3 linked regions of the Homo sapiens genome follow. Each later gene encodes a partner of the first gene's protein in a complex. Each region holds a gene or a part of one and is shown in the gene's direction. Other genes may lie near its edges.

Evidence for each region. The genes of interacting proteins can lie anywhere in the genome.
Region 2: PPIE (region 1) and XAB2 share a complex: the UniProt entries of both Homo sapiens proteins name them as parts of the XAB2 complex.
Region 3: PPIE (region 1) and ISY1-RAB43 share a complex: the UniProt entries of both Homo sapiens proteins name them as parts of the XAB2 complex.

Annotation. Positions count from the first base shown.
Region 1 is NC_000001.11:39,734,658-39,741,899, forward strand, and holds the start of PPIE (peptidyl-prolyl cis-trans isomerase E), read left to right. Parts: upstream 1-4,224; 5' UTR 4,225-4,243; coding exon 4,244-4,274; exon of another isoform or gene 4,275-4,636; intron 4,637-5,507; coding exon 5,508-5,606; intron 5,607-6,708; coding exon 6,709-6,752; intron 6,753-7,237; coding exon 7,238-7,242. UniProt on the Homo sapiens protein: Involved in pre-mRNA splicing as component of the spliceosome. Combines RNA-binding and PPIase activities.
Region 2 is NC_000019.10:7,626,524-7,634,254, reverse strand, and holds the start of XAB2 (pre-mRNA-splicing factor SYF1), read left to right. Parts: upstream 1-4,709; 5' UTR 4,710-4,727; coding exon 4,728-4,778; intron 4,779-5,956; coding exon 5,957-6,105; intron 6,106-6,403; coding exon 6,404-6,527; intron 6,528-6,814; coding exon 6,815-7,012; intron 7,013-7,731. Other genes in the region: PCP2 (Purkinje cell protein 2 homolog), read left to right, coding at 635-848, 1,118-1,302, 1,425-1,539, 1,738-1,862, 2,447-2,566; protein PET100 homolog, mitochondrial, read right to left, coding at 2,699-2,782, 3,409-3,432, 3,596-3,682, 4,395-4,421. UniProt on the Homo sapiens protein: Involved in pre-mRNA splicing as component of the spliceosome. Involved in transcription-coupled repair (TCR), transcription and pre-mRNA splicing.
Region 3 is NC_000003.12:129,130,042-129,137,063, reverse strand, and holds part of ISY1-RAB43 (ISY1-RAB43 protein), read left to right. Parts: intron 1-2,109; coding exon 2,110-2,232; intron 2,233-2,868; coding exon 2,869-2,990; intron 2,991-6,427; coding exon 6,428-6,514; intron 6,515-6,875; coding exon 6,876-6,976; coding exon of another isoform or gene 6,977-6,983; exon of another isoform or gene 6,984-7,022. Other genes in the region: pre-mRNA-splicing factor ISY1 homolog, read left to right, coding at 2,110-2,232, 2,869-2,990, 6,428-6,514, 6,876-6,983. UniProt on the Homo sapiens protein: Component of the spliceosome C complex required for the selective processing of microRNAs during embryonic stem cell differentiation. Required for the biogenesis of all miRNAs from the pri-miR-17-92 primary transcript except miR-92a.

The DNA of each region.
Region 1 (7,242 bases):
TGCAGTTTTTCTGTTTGTTTGGATGTTTTTTTGAGATGGAGTCTTACTCTATCACCCAGGCTGGAGTGCAGTAGTGCCATCTTGGCTTACTGCAACCTCTGGCTCCCGAGTTCAAGTGATTCTCCCGCCCCAGCCTCCCGAGTAGCTGGGACTACACGTGCACACCACCACGTCCAGCTAATTTTCGTGTTTTTAGTAGAGACAGAGGTTCACCATGTTGGCCAGGCTGGTCTTGAACTCCTGACCCCAGGCAATCCGCCCACCTCGGCCTCCCAAATTGCTTGGATTATAGGTGTGAGCCACCACACTCAGCTTCATAGTTAGTTTTTTGAGTCAGAATTTCACTCTGCCACCCAGACTGGAGTGCGGTGGTACAATTTCGGCTCACTGCAACCTCCGCCTCCTGAGTTAAAGTGATTCTCCTGCCTCAGCCTCCTGAGTAGCTGAAGCTACAGACAGACACCACCACACCTGGCTAATTTTTGTGTTTTTAGTAGAGGCAGGGTTTTGCCATATTGGCCAGGCTGGTCTCACACTCCTGAGCTCAAGAAATTCACCCGCCTCCGTCTTCCAAAGTGCTGGAATTACAGGCGTGAGGCACTGAGCGCGATGGAGAATCTATACAGTTTTATATCACCACCACTCCCCTCAAAATGCGCTGAATTTGGTCAAAAACCATTACTTCTCCCCTTCGCCTGGATTCTGAATGGTAGCATTCAGGTGTCGAGTGGTTGGAGTGTCCTAACTTTGACCACCATCGAGTGCTGTCCTTTCCTTGGGTGCTAACCCACTGCTTCTCCTGGTTCCCAGGCACCCCAGCCTGCTGTCCATGTGCAGGCCAGGAACCCCTGACTGCCTCCATGCTGGCGGCAGCACTTTCCCAAGAACAGAAGCAGGTGCTGAGTGAGTGACCCACGCGCCTACGAAAGAAGAGAGGGCCAGAAGCTGGTGCTGACGCAGACACCAAGGTTACTGAGATTCCGTTTGGTTTTTTATGAACTATCTTCCCCACAGGAGACATTTGTTCCTCCTTATCCAAACAATGCATTCAAACTTGGCTGTAAAGATTGTAGGAAGAGATGCACAGGGCAAGGTGGGAATGGAGAGGGGCTGGTGAGCTTCCATGCCCTCTCTAGGCATGCTGTGTTCCAAGCACATCAATGTATTCACCAACCTGGAAACTCCCCAAACCGCATTTAGAGTGTTTATATGAGGTTTCATTACCTAGGCATGGCTGATTAAACCACTGGGTGTTGGTGATTGAACCCAATTTCCAACCCCCTCCTCTCCTCAGAGGTTGGAGGCGGGAGCTGGAAGTCCCAACCCTCTAATCACATGGTTGGTTTCTCTGATGACCAACCCCCATCCTGAAGCGAGCTAGGGGTTCTACCTTGAGTCATCTGCTTAGCACAAACTTAGGTAGGGTCAAAATGGGCTCATTATGAATAACAAAAGACACAGCACTCAGGATATTCCAATGATTTTAGAAGCTCTGTGCCAGGAACTAGGACAAAGACCAAGTATCTATTTTTTATTATACCACACCACATAAAGGACGCCTGGTCAGATTCTTCCTGAGAGTGACCTTTTGTTTTGGAATAGTGACGGGTACACAAAGAGCTCTCCTAATCAGATCTCACAGCCTCATTCCTATAAGTATCAACTCCCTGGTTTGGCATGAGGTTGGTAAGGTCAGCTGTGTGCGCAGCCACTGCTTAGCTCTGGGAATACAATGGGTACAGGCCGTGGTGTCAAATACCTTCATCTACTGGGAGAGAGAGACATACCTGACTATAGTTATAGGGTGTATTCCAATTGACTTCTGAACTTGGGGACTATGGACTCTGTCTATAGGGGATTTGGGTGAGTGAAGCTTAACTAGGACCTCTGACAAGGACTGGTGGGTGCCTCCAGATGGAGAAAAGAAAGAACTCAATGAGCAAAAGCAGAGGCAAGGAAAAAGAGCCCATGGTAAGTAGGTGAGGAACTGATGTGGAGGTCAGGGTTGACTTGAGGTAGGCATGGACCCCTTGTCAAGGACCTTGTTAGCAGCATCAGTGATTTAGGTAGGGAGTTCTAGAGAATTTAGGTTTATTTTGAAGAAAGATAACCCTAGGCCGGGTGTAGTGGCTCACACTTGTAATCCCAGCACTTTGGGAGGCCGAGGCAGGAGGATCGCTTGAGTCCAGGAGTTTGAGACCAGCCTGGGCAACATGGCAAGACCCTGTCTCTAAAAAAAAAAAAAAAAAAAAAAAATTAGCTGGGCATGGTGACGTGCACCTGTACTCCCAGCTGCTACTCGGGAGGCTAAGGTGGGAGGATCATTTGAGGCTGGGAGGTTGAGGCTGCAGTGAACCATGATCATGTCACTGCCTTCCAGCCTGGGTAAGAGAGCAAGACCCTGTCTCAAAGAAAAAAAGAAAAAAAAAATCACCCTGGACAAGTGGATTGGAGGAACAGAGCCACTATCAACTCTTCCTTAGTCTACTACATTAACTTCCTGGTCTCCTGGGTTCCAATCAACCCATCCTGGGCCTAGTGTCAGAGCACTGTCTAAAATGATGTGAGCATGTAACTCTCCTGTTGTAACTTCAGCAGCTTCTCAAAGCTCCCAAATCTTCCAGAAGGCTTACAGCACCCTCATGATGTGGCCCTCTGCCTACCTTTCCCACCTGATATGCCCTCCACCCCACCATCCCAGGCTCTGGTCTTTTAGTTCCTTGAGTGTGCGGAAGCTGCCTCCTCCTCTCTCTGGCTCCTTTTCCTTCAGAATTCAGCTTAAATGTCACCTCAGGAAGGTCTTAACCCCCTGCTCCATATAAAATAGATGGTCCCATTATTTCCTACCACTATGTCAACCTGTAATTTATATATTAGTGGGTTTAGTCCAAGATGTTACTCTAAACTGCACCATTTTGTAAGCTCCCTGCTATTCTGCAGACCTTGGTCAAAGTGAAACATTTCACAGGGGTTTGGGCTGTGAGAAACATCCTGCCTAACCACCCGACCACAAGGCAGACAAAGGCCCAACTAAAGAAACATCCCTCTCATATCTTCCTGGGCAAAGGTCCAAGGGACACCATGATGACATCCCACTGGAACAAGGGCCAAACCGCCTCATCATGAGAACATCTTTATATCAATATCCTGCTAGGCAGCAACCCATACTGCCCAGACCCCTACCGCCCATACCTATAAATTGCCCAGTCTGTAAGCAGTGGTGGGCACTGGCATTAGGCTGGTTCCCCACTTCTGTAGGTTATTATGCTGGACATAAAGCCTGCGTTTGCTGTCGAGCCGCCCTCTTTCTGTGTGTGTGTGTGTGTGTGTGTGTGTCTTTCTTTAACCCTTGCCTTCTTTTCAAAACCTAACACGAGTAGACAAACGTTCTTTCTGAAGAGCCAGATTGTAAATATTATTGTAGGCTTTGCAGGCTATAGCTCTTCTGCCCTTGTAGTAGGAAAGCAGCCACAGTCATACTTAAAGGAATGAGCGTGGCTGTGTCCCCATAAAGCTTTCTTTACGGACACTGAAATTTTAATTTCACATAATTTTCATGTGCTAAGAAAATATACATATATATTTTGTGAGATGGTGTGTCGCTCTCGTCACCCTGGCTGGAGTGCAACGGCGCGATCTCTGCTCACTGCAACCTCCGCTACCTGGGTTCAAGCGATTCTCCAGCCTCAGCCTCCTGAGTAGCTGCGATTACAGGCGCCCGCTACCACGCCTGGCTAATTTTTGCATTTTTAGTAGAGACGGGGTTTCACCATGTTGGCCAGGCTGCTCTCGAACTCCTGACCTCAGGTGATCCGCCCGCCTCAGCCTCCCAAAGTGCTGGGGCTACAGGCATGAGCCACCACGCCCGGCCAAGAAAATATAGTTTTTTTATTTTTTCCAACTATTTCAAAAGGTAAAATTCATTCTTAGCTCCCAGGTTGTCCAAAAACAGACGCGCAGGATGGCCAAGCACCAGAGTTTATCGTTTGCCCATAATAATCGGGTTGATTCGGCCAAGGTTTCCCTCCCCCAACACGGTGCGCACTGGGAAGCGCGAGGACCACGTCCCTTGGTTTACCACTGCGCACCTCACAAGGCGCCCAGTGCATCCGGGTAGCGGGATGCCGGTTGGACCAACGCGAGGGTGGGCGGGGTCTAAGAGCTAAGCGTTGGGGGCGGGGCGGGACAGTGGGGAAGAGGACGGGTCGAGTGCTGGCTTCCGGCGGAAAAGCGCGCGAGCAAGATGGCCACCACCAAGCGCGTCTTGTACGTGGGTGAGCAGGAGGGGTTGCTAGGCGGAGTCTGAGTGAACGCGACCCCCAAGGGTCGGGGCGTGGGGTGGGACGCATCTCTGAACCAGGAGGACGGCGAGCTGCTGTCAAGGCCGGGTCTCTGGCGGTAGTGCTGGCGATAGCTCTGGCTGTGCTTAAACTCCTTCCAAGGTTTCCCACTGTCCTCAGGAAAAAGTGCAGACTTCTTAGCAGTACGCACTTCTCCAGCTTCTTTGCTTTGCTTCCCGATTCGCTGGGTCTCCCGAAAAATGACCCACTTGCCCCCAAGGTTCAGGTTATTTCACACCTTTGGGCCTCTGCTTTTGCGACTCCCTTGCAGTGAACAGCCTTGCCACACACCTCAGGTGCGTGAACCCGAGACGGAATGATTATTCTGACTTCCTAGCCCGCTGAGCTCCAGCGGGCCCCGAGGAGCGGTAAAGGAGTATTATGGCCCTTCGGATCCTCTCGTTCATTTGTTTTACAAACATTCAGTGCAGCGACGGCTCAGCCCCAGCCCCTGCCATAAAGGAAGGAGTTCCCAGACTAGCCAGAAAAAAAGTGGAATTACCTCAGTAGCACACTTTTGATAAGCGCTGTAGTGAGGATGGATCATGATAATATGGGCCTGGCTGCGGGACAAATGACCCATCCATCTGGAGAAGCGAGGGCAAATTCTGGATGCGGCGATGCCAGAGCTGATGAGCAGGAGTTAGCTACGTAACCGAAGCAGAGGCAAGGCCGTTCACTGCAAGGGAGTCGCAAAGGTGTGAAATAGCCTGACACTTGGGGGCAAGTGGGTCATTATTCGGGAGACCCAGGAAATTAGGAAGCAAAGCAAAAAAGCTGGAGAGGTGGGTACTGCTAAGGAGTTTGCACTTTATCCTGAGGACAGTGGGAAGCCTTTGAAGGAGTGTAAGCGAAAAGTTACGGGTTCAAATTTGCATTTTCCTAAGATCATTCTAGTTGGCTTTGTGGAGTTGATGGAATGGAGGCAGGGAGGTCAGTTGTGAAGCTATTGCAGTAATCCCAGGACTAGATGAGAGTCTGAAAGAAGGGCGAAGAGAGGAATATTTTTCATAAGTATGGGTGGGCAGAGATGAGAGGGGGATGTTTGTTTACCCAAAGAACTGAATGGAAGGGTCCTGTCCCCTGGCTAGCATGCTAACTGGGCTGCAAGGACTTCTGCAAGAGTATGGAGATCAGTGGCTCAGAAGGCCCTTGGCTTATTTGCAGGTGGACTGGCAGAGGAAGTGGACGACAAAGTTCTTCATGCTGCGTTCATTCCTTTTGGAGACATCACAGATATTCAGATTCCTCTGGATTATGAAACAGGTGAGTTAGTGTCTCTCACGTTCAGAATCCTCTTACTAGGAAAATACCTTAAAAAATTAAAGTCACATCACAATTCTAAATATGCATTCTAAATATGGTTAGTATACACTACAGGTAAGTTCAGGAAGGTGTCTGGTGACAGTGATCTCGATGGAGAAGGAATGTTCTGAGGCCATGTGGTTGTGAACTCTGAATACTTTCCAGAGTCTTCAGCTGTTGGGTTGAGATAAGACAGATTTTTCAATAGACCAGTAGGGAGATAGGTTTGAACTACATTGAGATTTGAATGTTGTTTTAATCTACCTGATGGGTACCCCATCCCACCTGCACCTTCTTGCAGCTGTGCTATTAAATGAGGCAGCGGGAAAGCCTAGCCCCATAATGGGGGTGGGTGAGGGCGGGGGTTCTTGGCCTCTGCACCCCTGGGTGGGTTTCCCATCGATTGGTATCACAACCACAGTTCAGTTTTCTGTTTACCTTTGTTGTCATTTTTAAGATTATAGTTTTAGGCCTAGTTTTATCATCAACCTTGCATATGATTGTTAGCAAAGTCTTTAAACTCTCTGGGCCTGGGAAATCTTTATTTGCAAAATGATAAGGTTATGTTGGCTTTCTAAGGGCCTTCTAGTCTCTGAGTTCTATGATAAACATTATTGTGCTTGGTCTTTCTAGTTAGTTCAGCATTTTCCTGAAGATAAAGACTGAGCATCTTTATCAGGTTTTAGGATTCATGCTTTATGCACAGTTGATGCGCAAAATATATATTTAGATAGATAATTGATAGGTCAAATGACTTTATTTTTCTAATTGCTTTGCATGCAATGGTTAAGGTTTTAAGTTTGGCTTTCGTAGAATAATTGAATACTTATCAATTAAAAATACAGTTTACTATTCAGCTATGTCCATTAAAAAAACAAAGTTTATTATTGCTTAAAATATTGTATAAGAAGAATCAAGAATGAGATTCCTTCTTCCTAAATAGTGATTGGATAGAACTTCTGGTGTTTGGATACGACATGTAACTGACTTCACTTTGTGACCATCCTGTTTCTTCCCACTACCCCACATAGTAATTACTTGTTTTTGTTTTTCCATTTTGTAGAAAAGCACCGAGGATTTGCTTTTGTTGAATTTGAGTTGGCAGAGGTGAGAGTCTGTGTTACTAGTGTCTAGTCCTTGGTTTGTGATGTTGTTACTGATTACAAAGGAAGCTTTTCACCATTTGGTTAGGTTTTTGGGCCTTAGGCTGATGCTTCCAGAGAGATCAGAAGTAAGTGCTGTTCTAAGGAAAGCGTCTCTCACATAATCAGACTGGACTGTGAATAACATGTCAGACCTGCCAGGCCCTCCCATTCTTGCCCTGCAGAGGAGCTAGCTCATGCACCCCTGTTCATTGAGCATTCTTGCCTGGAAGTAGTGATTATTTCTTGTGCCTTCAACTAGATGGCAAATTGTTGCACCACCAGCTCTAAAATCAGCCAGGAAGTGCTCTTTGTTAGAAACACACAAAACCTAGGCAAGAAATACAGAGGTGGCATTTTTCTGGATTTTTGCTACTGAGCATGTGTTTAGACACCATAAGAAGCATTTGGCTGCAAGCCTAAACTTGTACCTTTGTCTTTCCTTGGCAGGATGC
Region 2 (7,731 bases), on another chromosome or scaffold:
GGGAAAGCCACAGTGGCTCGGGGGAAAAGGCAGGGACGTCCTCTCCCCGCCTGCCTCTGTCCCCAGGGAGTCTCGCCTCCTGTTCCCACCTGGGGCTAGGGTGATAGAGGAGAGGAGATAGCTCAACCTGGCATTTAGGTGGTGTGGGAACAGGAGACCCCAGACTTTCTTGTTTTGGGGTCTGGGGCAGGCAACCAGGCTCCAGGGACAGTGAGTTGAAGGAAGGGTGGCTGGGAGACCCCTTGACTTGCTGCCAAGGAGACAGAGCTGGAGCTAGGGTGGCCGGTGGTGTCTGAGGCAGGTGCAGAGAGGGAGGGAGGGAAGGGGCCTTTGACTCCAACCTCCTTTTTCTGTACCGACTGCAGGTGGCAGCTGCCCTTTCAGGAGCCAGTGGGGGAACCTGGGTGGCTGGGTGGGGACACCTGCAAGTCCTCCCTAAGCCAGCTACCACCCTACACTGTTGGCCTCCCTTCTCCAACTGTGGGGATGCTGCTCAGGCCTTTTGTGACATCACACCTGAGAGTCCCTGGGGTCCAGTCATTGCTGCTGGGCACAGCGAGGTCCAAGCTCAGGTCGCCCTGCCCCCTACCCACCATGCCAGATCCAGCATCGTTGTGGGCAAACAATTATCTGGATGATCTTTATGGGGCTTAAGCTTGGGTGGGAGCAGATGGGGCATGAGCTGGGGATTTGGGGATGGGGGGAATCCACACCCCCACGTCCTGGACGTTTAAAAGGCCCTCTCTGGCACTGGGCCGGGGCAGAGGCCAGCAGAAAAGTGACTGGAGTCCAGGGACATGATGGATCAGGAGGAGAAGACGGAGGAAGGCTCAGGCCCCTGTGCCGAGGTGAGAGGGCCCTGCCCCCACCCCACCCCCAGCTCAAGGTCTCAGAGCCCATGATTGACAAGACTAGTTTGTAGGGCACCTAATTAACGAGTGAGTCTCCTAGGACCCCCTGACCCAGTTGTGGCTGTAGAAAGGGGCTGGTGGGCTTGGGGGTCTGAGTGCCAGGCCCCAGGGCAGAGGGCAGGGCTCTCCGTGTGGACCCCTATTGATGGGAGATGCTGGGACCTGGGGGTAGCTCCTGGGCCATGTTTCCCTGATTCGTGTCCCAGCTCCCAGGCCACACTCATCAGGCCCCAATCTAGGACGGCGGGACACGCATCGGAGCCTGTCCCTTGAAGCGGTACCACGTGAAGTGGCACTGCTGGCCAGGGCCCCTGGGGCGGGGGCCGGGATTGGGAAGGAGACTCATGTCTCATTCAGAACAGCTCTGCAGAGAGGATCGGCGGGGACCATGGTGAGAGCTGAGGAAGTGGGGACGGCAGGCCCCGGGGTCAGGGTGTGAGCAAGCTGGCTAGGAAGTTTGGGGAGGGGCCCCCAAGCTGAAGGGCCAACCAGACTGAGCGAGTCTGTCCCCAGGCGGGCTCCCCAGACCAGGAGGGCTTCTTCAATCTGCTGAGCCACGTGCAGGGCGACCGGATGGAGGGACAGCGCTGTTCACTGCAAGCCGGGCCGGGCCAGACCACCAAGAGCCGTGAGCATGGGCACGGGGGTGCTGTCCATGGGGCGTGAACGGGGTGGGAGTGCAGGGCAAGTGGTCATCTGGAGGGCCTGGGGGCACGGGATGTGGGAGGTGGTTGTGCACCCTGAAGCATCTGTGTGGGGGTGAAGGGGTAGGGTTGGGGGCCCCCACTCCGGCTGTGTCCTCCCAAGTCTGTGAACGTCCACGCAGAGAGCGACCCCACCCCCGAGATGGACAGCCTCATGGACATGCTGGCCAGTACCCAGGGCCGCCGCATGGATGACCAACGTGTGACAGTCAGCAGCCTGCCCGGCTTCCAGCCCGTGGGGTCCAAGGTAGGTGATGTTCTGGCGATGTCGAGGAGAAACCCGCCAGGCAGTGCTCTCCGATCCTGCCCTCCACCCCAGCCAGGAGGGAACAGGGCCTGCCCCATCTCTGTCCATCCGCTGCCCTGACTTCAGATGGGAGGACCAAGGCCCAGGCAGTGGCTAGAGGGGCCCAAGGTTATACAGGGGCCATGCTAGTGTAAGACCCATGGCTGGAACTTGTGGCTCCTGCCCCCAAGTCTGAAGGTTCTGGGGAGGCCAAAGGGAGAAAATAGGACCCCTTCCTAGGAAAGTATCCCAGGGAGGAAGTCACGTAAGCTCACACATAGGATATATACATCTGTATACTCACATCTGTTGACTTCACACATACACGAAGCTTGGGTTCTGATCAAGATCCCAGCGAGGGCCCCAAGACCTGCCACCTCACACTCAAATGCCACCCTAAATGGCAGATATTGAGGGTAAACATAGACCAGTGCTCACAATGAGGTGGGACACGGTGGCTACCTGCACCCTCTCTCCATTGTTCGCCACCTGTGGCCGGCACTGCCCTTGAGCCCTCCCCCTGGCTGACCCCTCTTCATCCACAGGACGGAGCACAGAAACGAGCTGGGACCCTCAGTCCCCAACCCCTGCTCACCCCTCAGGACCCGACCGCTCTCGGCTTCCGTCGGAACAGCAGCCCCCAGCCCCCGACACAAGCCCCCTGAGGGCCTGAGGCATCCTGGGTCTCACTCGGCCCCCAAAAACTGATAAAAGAATAAAACACTTAAATGAATAACAAGGAACTGAGTATATGTATATTTCATCAGGGGAGGGGCTAGGACTCCCACTTGGAGGCCTCAGGAGTTCTGCTGGGCGTCGCGAAGGAGCTTCTCCTCCCGCCGCTTCCGTAACCTCTCTTTGAATTCCTCTATCTCTTGAAGCTAGGGGTGGAGAAGCGGGTGGGACAGGAAGGGGGGAGGGGCACACACCTCAGAGCCGGGACCACCCCCCCCCGCCCACCTCTCCCACCACCCTGCCCCAGACCACGGCTTCAGGGTTCAGTGTCTTCACTGGAAGCCCCCTGCCAATTACAAAGGGGTCCGCGTGGGATCCGCTTCACTCTTCCAGGAGAAGGCAATAAGGAAACCATCTACTCCTCTGCTCTCGGTTCCTTACTCATGGCTGAGAGTAAAATGTTTCTTTTTGAGACAAAGTCTCACTCTATTGCCCAGGCTGGAGTGCAGTGGCGTGATCTTGGGCTCACTGCAACCTCCACCTCCTGGGTTCAAGTGATTCTTCTCCCTCAGCCTCCCAAGCAGCTGGAATTATAGGCGCCTGCCACCATGCCTGGCTAAGTTTTGTATTTCTGTAGACATGGGGTTTCGCCATGTTGGCCAGGCTGGTTTTGAACTCCTGACCTCAAGTGATCTACCCACCTCAGCCTCCCATGCCCTGGGATTACAAGCATGAGCCACTGCGCCTGGCCTAAAATTTTCATCTAAAACCCATCCCGGATACAAGAATCCAGCCTCCTCCATCCCTCTGGCAGGAAGAAGAGATCACTTACCTTCTCAGGTGGCCACAGCTCCCTCTGTAAGGAAAAGTCACAAATGGGACACGAGCCAAAGGCCTCCAGAGCCCCACATCAGGGCAGGGTCGGCTTATGGGAGGCAGACATTAGTCCCCAGCAGACTGCTGCCCCACACCCTCTCCCACCCCTGGAATGAACCCTCAAACACTCCTCTTATGCCCACCTTGCGCTGTATGACATCGTCCTCAAACCACTCGGCCTGATTGGAAACCCAGAACATAGCCACAGGGAAAGTGAGGTAGATTATCATCTGGAATGGCAGAGGGTGGGTGAGGTGAGCTCCCCCCAAGCAATGTGCAGAGGCTCCTCAGAGCCTGGGGGACCCATCCTACTGCAGAGTCCAGAAGCGCCTCGTTACGGCCGACCCAAGAATCCCAGAACTCCCACCAAGGGTACAGAAACCTCGCACCCTAAAACCTAACTCCTATAATCCAGGAGGCCTCATTCCTGAAAGTTCCCTCTGAGCTGGAGTCTTCCTCTCAAACACAGACAGACACACAGACGCCCCAGCTACAATCAAAAGCATCTCCTCGAGACCTCATTACCCATCCCCACTTAAGATCCCGGGAGCACCCCCAAACCCAGGAGGCGTCACTCTTCAACTCCACTTCTCGAAGTCTAGGAATCTCCCTGTCATAGACACCCACCCACCACGAGCCCGAGAGCTCCCCCAGGATCTTAAGTCTTCCTTCTTTAGAGCCCCCTTCTCAGCTCACCCCTCTCTGAGGTCCTTCCTCGGACCAGCCCTCTCACAGCCCCCAAACCCAGAAGCCCAAATCCGAGAACCCCCCCAGCCCAGCGTCCCCTCTCCTGGATTTCCAACCAGAAAGGTTCCTCTCAAATCTTAAGAGCTTTCTCCTTGGAGCTCCCTCTTCCTTTGAAGTCCCCCCATTTCCAACCTCATCTTCAGATCCAGGAAGATCCCCTGCCCAGCCTCCCAACCCACTCCTGTGTCCACTGACCCGAAATATCTCCAGCTTCACCCCCATCTCGTTTCTCCCGGTCAACAAAGCCAGTTCCGCCCAAAGCCGACCCTCCAGCAAGACAGAAGCTCACTGGTGTTTTGCACGCTCCATTGCTGAAGCTGATTGGCCAATGTGTATCCTGATGGCGCATCTTCTGGCGCCTCTATTCTGCTTCCGGTCGCTGGCGTCGTCGAAAAGAAGTCAATAACGTGGGCCTGTCCGTCAAAAATGATTTAACCAATAGAAAACGGGTCTGGCTCGGAGGGGCGGGCCGTCAGTGGTAGACGTCATAAGCGCGCGACTCTCTCCTGTACCTGGGCATCCAGAAAAATGGTGGTGATGGCGCGACTCTCGCGGCCCGAGCGGCCGGACCTTGTCTTCGTGAGTCCACAGAGGAGCCGGGGGTGGCCTGCGTTGGGGCATTGGGACCTGGACGCCGCAGGGGATCGAGGCTGGGTCGGCAAGGAGATTTAGGCCGAAACTGCCAGGCCAAGGTCTGGGAACCCTAATGGGCCAGAGACCGGATCGTCATGTCCGCACCGAACTGTCCAGGAGTAAAAATATGGTGTTGTATCTTCGGGTCTGAGTAGAAAACCACTGTCGAAGGGAAGCGTCTAGCCTCCCGAACCAGGGGCGGAAATGGGGGCGTGCAGGGAATGGGAGAGGAGGAAGATCGCATAACTGAACCTTGAGAGGTGAAGATCGGTGTCTGAAGTAAAGGCTTGCTTACGAGGCCAGGGTTCTGGTTTCTGGGATGAAGGCTTGGTTTTCTGGATAGCGGTCTCTAGGCCTGGACTGCAGCATGACAGTTTCTGGGGTGGTGGCCAGGCTAGAAGAACCCTGGTGATGTGGAGCTTGTCAGGCGATGGCCAGTGAAATACTTACTCTCTGGAGTAGAGGCGTGACATCTTCACCAGATTCTTGGTGTGCAGAGTTAAAGGCTTGGCTTCTGGTGTATAACTCCTCCTGTGAGATAAAGGCCTAGCTTTTAATTTCTGGGGCAGAGTTGAGCTAGACGCTGGCTAGTGGGATCCTGGGGGCGGGGCTAGTGGCTTGGAATCTGGACCTGAGAGCCCTGGTGGCTGGGGTAAAGATCTGGTCATCTGGGCCTGGGGTGGAGATGGGTCAGATGGTGACAGTGGGAGTCTGAGGGGCCAAAGGCCTGGTGTCTGGGAAGAGGCACGTTTTGAAGAAGTGGGGTCTGGTGTCCAGGACTGGCATCTGGGCCAGGGCCTTGGTATCTAAGGAGTCTGACCATCTGGGGCAGAAAGCGAGTGGTGATGCGGACTCATTCCTGGCCCAGAGCCCTAATGACTGAGAAGTCTGATGATTTGGGTTCGATTTTGGGTAGTTGAATTCTGAGGGGTAAAGGTCTGGGCCACTGTCTTGGTGTCGGGCATCTGGTTTGGTGCCTGGGCATCTGGTGACCTGACTTCCTTGGTGGGTGGTGGGATCTAGGTAAAAGTCCGGAGTTTGGACCTGAGCCCCAGCAGTGGGATGGTGCTGCACACAGGCTCTGAGGGTAGGCCTCTCTTCTTCCCATTCCCTGGCCCTGGCAGGAGGAAGAGGACCTCCCCTATGAGGAGGAAATCATGCGGAACCAATTCTCTGTCAAATGCTGGCTTCGCTACATCGAGTTCAAACAGGGCGCCCCGAAGCCCAGGCTCAATCAGCTATACGAGCGGGCACTCAAGCTGCTGCCCTGCAGGTGGGAATGGCTCCAGCTGCCCTGCCCACCAGCCCCCACCCCACCTGGTCCAGTTATAACAAAACTGCCAAGTGGGTCCCGGGTCCCGGGTGATTGCTTCGTGTTTCATCACTGACCTGTACATCCCTTGATGGGTCAGCACACCTTCTCTGATGTCCCAGTCTGTCCCTGTCATTGCTGAGACATGTCACCCCTCCCACACCCCTTCTTCCCACATTTGCCAACTGGGGCAGGGCAAATGGTTCTGGGGGTGTCCATAAAGCTGACCGATCAGCATCTGTCCCCTCCTATTCCCCAGCTACAAACTCTGGTACCGATACCTGAAGGCGCGTCGGGCACAGGTGAAGCATCGCTGTGTGACCGACCCTGCCTATGAAGATGTCAACAACTGTCATGAGAGGGCCTTTGTGTTCATGCACAAGGTTTGGGGCTCGGCGAGGGGATGAATCGGGAAGTGGAGCTCAGTCCATGGTGGTGGGTGGGGCGGGGACAGGGGCTGGGCTCAGCATGTTAGGGATGGGGGCTTGGATTCCTGTTGCTTCTTTGCATGGGAAGTTGGGCTGGACTCAGTCCTGGAGCTGGGGGTTTCTGGGTCCCGCCGCATTTATGTGGTGGCCCCAGGTGTGGCTCAGCCACAGGACATCGAGTGTCTGTGGCCAGGCCATGGAGTCCGTGGCTTAGCCCCAGCCGCCTCTCCCCACACCCCCAGATGCCTCGTCTGTGGCTAGATTACTGCCAGTTCCTCATGGACCAGGGGCGCGTCACACACACCCGCCGCACCTTCGACCGTGCCCTCCGGGCACTGCCCATCACGCAGCACTCTCGAATTTGGCCCCTGTATCTGCGCTTCCTGCGCTCACACCCACTGCCTGAGACAGCTGTGCGAGGCTATCGGCGCTTCCTCAAGGTGAGCCTAGCAGGTGCGCTGGTTCCCCAGGTTAGTTTCCAGAAACGGCCTCACTGTGACACTAGCTCCGCGTAGGATGTCACCCAGCAGACGGGATGTGGGAAGAGGCTCCTGGAGATGCATGTGTTTTGTTGTTGTCCGTGATTCATGTCTTTATTTTCCAAATAGTTTGTTCACACTGGTTTCACATTAGGCATAGCGATGGGTGCTGAGGACAGTGTGACTAAGACACTCCCTGCCTGCACGGAGCTTTTAGTCTAAGTAGGAAGACAGATGCATATGAGCTGATGGCATGAACTAGAGTAAAACCACAGCCATGAAGAGGGCCAGGAATAGGGGTGGGGAGAAGCAGGCAGGGTGGAGAGTGGAAGCACCAGCCGGGCGGGAGTGGGGCATGGTTTGCTCAAACTTAAAGTATCTGTTTTATGACGTTTGGATTCTAAGCTGGACCAGTCAGGACTGAGGCTGGACCCGTGGGGCCCAGGCTGGACACTATAGTCAAGGCTGGACCCATGGGATCAAGGCTGACCCAAAGGGGCCAAGGCTAGACCAGTCAGGACTGAGGCTGGACTAGTGGAGCCAAGGCTGGACCCATTGTGGGTTGGGGGTCAATTCTAACCCAAAAGGACCAAGGCTGGACCATTGGGGCTGAGACTGGACCACCGCAGTCAAGGCTGTGCCCTTGCGGGTCAAGGCTAACCCAAAAAGTCCACAGCTGG
Region 3 (7,022 bases), on another chromosome or scaffold:
AATTAGCTGGGCATGGTGGCGGGCACCTGTAATCCCAGCTACTTGGGAGGCTGAGGCAGGAGAATGGCGTGAACCCAGGAGGCGGAGCTTGCAGTGAACTGAGATCGCGCCATTGCACTCCAGCCTGGGCAACAGAGTGAGGCTCTGTCTAAAAAAATAAAATTAAAAAATAAAAAATAAAAAAAAAAAGAAGAAGAAAATACAAAATTAGCTGGGCATGGTGGCAGGTGCCTATAATCCCAGCTACTCGGGAGACTAAGGCAGGAGAATGGCGTGAACCCAGGAGGCGGAGCTTGCAGTGAGCTGAGATCACGCCATTGCACTCCAGCCTGGGTGACAGAGCGAGGCTCTGTCTTTAAAAAAAAAAAAAAAGAAGAAGAAGAAAATACAAAATTAGCCGGGCGTGGTGGTGCGTGCCTGTAATTCCAGCTACTCAGGAGGCTGAGGCAGGAGAATTGCTTGAACCCAGGAGGCGGAGGTTGTGGTGAGCTGAGATTGCGCCATTGCACTCCAGCCTGAGCAACAAGAGCGAGACTCCGTCCCACAAAAAAAAGAAAAAAACATGCTGGGATTACAGGCATGAGTCACTGCACCTGGCCAGCTTTTATTCTTTCACCAATCTGGTTGGTTGTCATTTTGTTTTTCATTTTTAATAATTACTTAGCCGGGTGCAGTGGCTCACACCTATAATCTTAGCACTTTGGGAAGCCTAAGCGGGTGGATCACCTGAGGTCAGGAGTTCGAGACTTGCCTGGCCAACATGGTGAAACCCCATCTCTACTAAAAATACAAAAATTAGCTGGGTGTGGTGGCGGGTGCTTGTAATCCCAGCTACTCGGGAGGCTGAGGCAGGAGAATCGCTTGAACCCGGGATGCAGAGGTTGCAGTGAGCCAAGATCATGCCATTGCACTCCAGCCTGGACAAGAGCGAAATTCCATCTCAAAAAAAAAAAAGAATTACTTAAATATTCTGGATTGTAGTCCTAGTCTGAAAATATCTTCTTTAGGGCTTTCTCATGTATCTTTTTTGTTTGTTTCTAGCTTCTTTTGTCTTTTTTATTTACTTATGTTTCCTGTCATGCTTTTTCATTAAACATTATGACAGTTCCTGTGTTATTAAAATACTTTGTGAAATAGCATTACAGGGGCTGCAGGATATCCCATCCCATACATATTCTGCAATTTACAATCATAGGTTATTCCCAAGTTTTCTCTATTATATAAATAATACTGTGATGCATATTTCTGTACATGAAGCTTTTTGCTATCTCGTGTTTGGTTTTTGTTTTTTTTTTTTTGAGATGGAGTCTCGCTCTGTCGCCCAGGCTGCAGTGCAGTGGTGCAGTCTTCGCTCACTGCAACCTCTGTCCCCTGGGTTCAAGCGATTCTCCTGCCTCAGCCTCAGGAGTAGCTGGGATTACAGGGGCCCCCACCACCATGCCTGGCTAATTTTTGTATTTTTAGTAGAGATGGGGTTTCACCATATTGGCCACGCTGGTCTTGAACTGCTGACCTCGTGATTCTCCCGCCTCGGCCTCCCAAAGTGCTGGGATTACAGGCATGAGTCACCGCACCCGGCCTGGTTTTGTTTTTTACTTAGGTAGATTGCTTTTAAACGGACAAATGGGTCCAAGTACTGATTTTAAAAAGGGCTCTACCACTTAAATAATTCCATGAATAGTATAGAAAAGTGTCTATCCATGGTATTTTCTTTTTCTGTGTGATGGAGTCTTGTTTTGTCGCCCAGGCTGGAGTGCAGTGGCGTGATCTCGGCTCACTGCAAACTCTGCCTCCTAGGTTCAAGCGATTCTCCTGCCACAGCCTGAGTAGCTGGGATTACAGGTGCGCACCACCACGCCCGGCTAATTTTTGTATTTTTAGTAGAGACGAGGTTTCACCATGTTGGTCAGGCTGGTCTCGAACTCCTGACCTTGTGAGCCACCTGTCTGGGCCTCCCAAAGCGCTAGGATTACAAGCATGAGCCACTGCGCCCACCTGGTATTTTCATGAACATACGTGCCACGTGTGTGTATAGCGTTGCATCAGGAGACAGCTTCGCTGGAGTGTGATTATGACTTGGAAACTCAGCTCCATTTCTGTTTCTTATAGCTCTTCCTCCTCCCAGAAAGACACGTGCTGAGCTCATGAAGGCAATCGATTTTGAGTACTATGGTTACCTAGATGAAGATGATGGTGTTATTGTGCCTTTGGAACAGGAATATGAAAAGAAACGTAGGTCTCTGGGCATTTTATTTCATAATAGATGGCATCTGTTTTCTGTTGTGTCCTTTGAAAACAGGATTTTCAATAGTGCTTTATGCCAGAAGGGAGTTTTCTTTGTTGCTAATGATCTTCAGGCGTGATGGTCTGCTAATTCCCTGACCCCTGTGAGGCAGTCAAAGCTGTGTGGGCCAGAGGTAACAGGTTGGGGAAGCCATGAGAGCCACGTCTGACCGGTCCCTGTCTGCTAGGAGGTCACCATGTGGATTCGTGCTAATACCAGTGCCCATGTGACACATCAGGCCAGGACTTTGGAAGCAAGTGGTCTGGAGCTGGAGCTGCTTTCTAGCATGCTCTGCCCCTGCCTTCTCTCTTTTCATGTGGACATGTTGGGAATCCACTCAGGTTGTGGAAGTGGGGAGGATTTGGGAATGTTCCCTAAAAAGCTGCTTTGTAGTGACTGAAGGCCAGAGCTGTTGTAGGACTACCATGCTTCACATCCATTTCCACCCACGGGGGCAGAATGAAGGGTGTCCCTTTCTAGAGGGGATGTCTAGACTTTCCCTGCATAGTGTTGGCCTTTCCCTGCATAGTGTTGAAAGCTCATTTAGAGACAAATAAATAGCACCTACCCTCTCTTGTGTTCAGTCAGAGCCGAGTTAGTGGAAAAGTGGAAAGCAGAGAGAGAGGCTCGGCTGGCAAGAGGAGAAAAGGAAGAGGAGGAGGAAGAGGAGGAAGAGATCAACATCTATGCAGTCACCGAGGAGGAGGTATTGGGGTTGGCCCCCTCTGGCACTCACTGCCATCTGTTCCAAGCCATGAAGTGTGGCAGGGAGGAAACTTGGCTCCCAAATACAGAGTCAGGGTTCACAGCCCAGCTTGCTCACCTGCAGGATGGCTGTGAAAACACTTGCGAGATTACAGGAGGGTTTCAGGAGGCAGCAGCCATGAGAGTGCCCTGCCGGCCGTGCTTTACACCAGGGCTTCCTTCTTTCCTTCTTAAAGACAGGCCCTTCTGCATACACTAGAATTAGACTGATAAACACAGAGGAAGCCATGAGCTTTAGCCCATGACCTCATCACTTCTGTTCACGTGTCAGTGGCAGTTGCTCTTCTGTAGTCTAACACCCCCATCTTTTTTATTTTTTTTGAAACGGAATCTGGCTCTGTTGCCCAGGCTGGAGTGCAGTGGCACAATCTTGGCTCACTGCAACCTCTGCCTTCCGGGTTCAAGCAATTCTTCTGCCTCAACCTCCCAAGTAGCTGGGACTACAGGCGAGTGCCACCACGCATGGCTAATTTTTGTATTTTTAGTAGAGACGGGGTTTCACCATATTGGCCAGGCTGGTCTCGAACTCCTGACCTTGTGATCCACCTGCCTTGGCCTCCCAAAGTGCTGGGATGACAGGTGTGAACCATTGCTCCCAGCCCTAACACCCCTGTCTTACACATGGAAAGAAACGCAGAGCAGAGAAGAAACTTTCTTAGAGGGTCATGGTTGGGGAATCTTTGCATATTTTCAGACCTTTTGCATATTTTCTGATCTTTTGCATATTTTCTGATTTATAGGAAATACTCATTATATATCTTAGTTATTACTTTTTATTATAGCCACCATGTAAGTAATCTTGACATATCTGTCTGTGCTACACCTTTTATTTTTTCTATGAAACATTACCAAAACTTCACTGCATTAAAGGAGGTATTCTGAAACAAGGAAAATTCAACATTTGAAATCTCTGCCTCCCAGGCAGAGCTCTTCTGCGGGGCCCTATATTTGGAGTCCTTGCTGCCTGCACAGGTCTAGGTGGATCTGATTTGCTGGACTGAGAGAAGGGAGGGGATCACCCACACATGGATGATGGCTCAGGTTCCACATGAGGAGCTTGCTGAGACATCACTGGTGAAGAAGCAGGCTCAGGTTTAGTGACTTAATGTCACATGGGATATAACAGGCCTGACGTTCCTGCTCATGTCCAGCTGGGCCAGCACTGGGGTTCAGTGCAGGTCTGAAGCAGGATGGCAGCATGCCTTAGGAGGATTTCCTCTAGGTACAAATATTCATTTGCTCTCTCAGCAGGTGTTTAATTCATGGCTCCTGTGAGCCAGCCGCATTCCAGGTGCAGGGGCATGGTGGTACAGAGGCTTGGAGTGTAGCTCATAGTCCAGGGGGAGGCAGTCCAGTAAGAGAGACAGTGAGCAACAGTCCCTCAATAGAGCCTGGTGCAGGGACAGCCTGCAGACACTCTGCTGGGAAGCTAAACCCTCAGCTGAGATTAGGATGATCCAGCGAACTTAACCAAGGAAGGAGGAGATGAGAGAGGGCTCCCAGCAGGGGCGCATCATGTGCTGAGAGATCCTGTGATGAGTGTGAGAGACAAAGGACAGCCCAGTGTGCTGGAGTGCAGAGAGTGGGTGCTGGGTGTGAGTGGAGGCTGATGGGGAGCTGGCGTTGTGGGGAAGAGCAGTGGAAACCCACAGCAGAATTTTTTTTTCTTTTCAAATAATTATAGAGATACAGGAAGTTGCAAAGAGTACAGAGAGATCTTGTGTATGCTTCACCCAGTTCCCCCCAGTGGTTGTATCTCATGTAGTTCTAGCACAGTAGTAAAACTGGGAGGTTGACATTGGCATATTGAGTGTGTGGAGTTCTGTGTCATTTGTCTCCATGTGTGGAGATCCATGTGGCCATCATGACAATCCAGATACAGAACTGGCCGGGGGTGGTGGTCACACCTGTAATCCTAATACTTTGGGAGGCTGAGGTGGGAGGATTGCTTGAACTCAGGAGTTCAAGACCAGTCTGGCAACACAATGAGGCCCTGTTTCTACCAAAAATAAAAACAATTAGCTAGGTGTGGTTGGACATGCCTATAGTCCCAGCTACTCAGGAGGCTGAGGTGTGAGAATTGCTTGAGCTCAGGGGGTTCAGATTACAGTGAGCTGTGATTGCACCACTGCACTCCAGCCTGGGAACTGTCCCCTTACTACAAAGATCCCTGGTGCCACCCCTTCACAGTTCACACCTCCCTGTCCTCACCATCTCTTCTCCTAGCTGAACCCTAACCTGTTCTCCATCTCTGATTTTGTCATTTCAGAATGTTTTATAAATGGGATCATGCTGTGAGTCACCTTTCACGATGGCCTTGACACTTAACATGATGCCCTTGCCATCCCTCTGGTTGTTGAGTTCAATAGTTCATTCCTTTTCACTGCTGAGTGTTGTTCCATATACAGAAAAGTACACACCTGCTAAATGTGTAGGTCACTGGATTTTCACAGGGTGAACACACACACACATAGCAAATACCAGTGAAGAAACAGAACAGGACCACAGCGCCAGAAGCTCACTACTGCCTCAGGGGTCACCCTCCTGACCTCTTGTGACCCATATATTTCACTTGTGTCTGAACTTTACATATGTGAGTCGTGTGTACTCTTTTGTGTCTAATGTTTGTGGGTATTTGTGTTGTGTCCAGATTGGGGTTTTGGCAGATAGGGTTGCTGGGAATTTTCTTGTTCCCGTGCAGTGTTTCTCTTGAGTACATGCTGAGGAGTGGAACCACCAGATCAGGGTAGGTATGTGTTTAGTGTTAGATACAACCAGTTTCTCCAAGTGCCAGCAGTGGATGAGAGGTTCCTCAAGAGGCTTTTGAAGCCATCCCCACTGGGAGCCAGTCAGGGAATGGGTCGTGCACGGTGTCTGGCAGAGCCCAGCAAACAGTGGACTCCTGACTCGCCACAAGACCCCTTCTCTCTTTCCAAGTCCGTGGTGTTTTCTTTGTTATTAGAAATTTGTATTGACTCATAGGCAACCTCTGAGCTGATTATTTTTCTATGCATGGTACATTCTTTTACATTTAAATTTTTTAAAATAGTGATACATTCACAAGGTTCAAAAGTGAAAAAGAATATAAAGATATTCCACAAAGATTCTCTTTCCTCACCCTGTCCCTCATCTACCTTGGTCTCACTGCCGTCAGTAATTTCTATTCTTATTTCCTCCTTAGACAAAAGGTAGCATAATATACAGCGTGTTCTATGGCTTTTTTTACTTAATCTTGTGGGTCAAGTGTCTTTCTATAAGTATAGAACTTTCTTAGTTTTTTTTTCTTTTAAATAGTTGCAGAGTAGTGTGTTTTATAGAGTTGCCAGCATTTATCTAGCTGGGCGCCTACTGATGGACTTTCGTTTGTTCTGTTTGTAGTCGGACGAGGAAGGCAGCCAGGAGAAAGGAGGGGACGACAGCCAGCAGAAGTTCATTGCTCACGTCCCTGTTCCCTCGCAGCAAGAGGTAGGACCACAGCTAAGAGCTGCCTGGGCGCCGGGGGCTTCTCTAAAGCAGACTTCACAGAGCACTGTAGTGGGTTTTCGTTGTCCTTCCTACCCATCAGGGCAGCTCAGGGTCCTGACCACATGACACCTGTCATTGTGTTCAGGGTGTGGGGTCCAAAAAGGGCAGGACCCTCTGCTCTAGGCCATTCTATCGTTCAAATGTTTCCAATGGGAGGGAGTTAGGACTCTTGGAGACTATTCTGCGTATTTAAATCAGACTCCTTGATGGACTTCTCCCACGGGGACTTCCTCCTGGCTGGGTCTGGCAGGGGTTGAGGGGCTTTGCTGAGGAGTGAGCCCTGCACTCTTAATTTCCACAGATTGAGGAGGCACTGGTGCGAAGGAAGAAAATGGAACTCCTCCAGAAGTATGCAAGCGAGACCCTGCAGGCCCAAAGTGAAGAAGCCAGAAGGCTCCTGGGGTATTAGGACCCAGCTGGGGCTCTCCTTGGAGTTCTTCCATCCCCC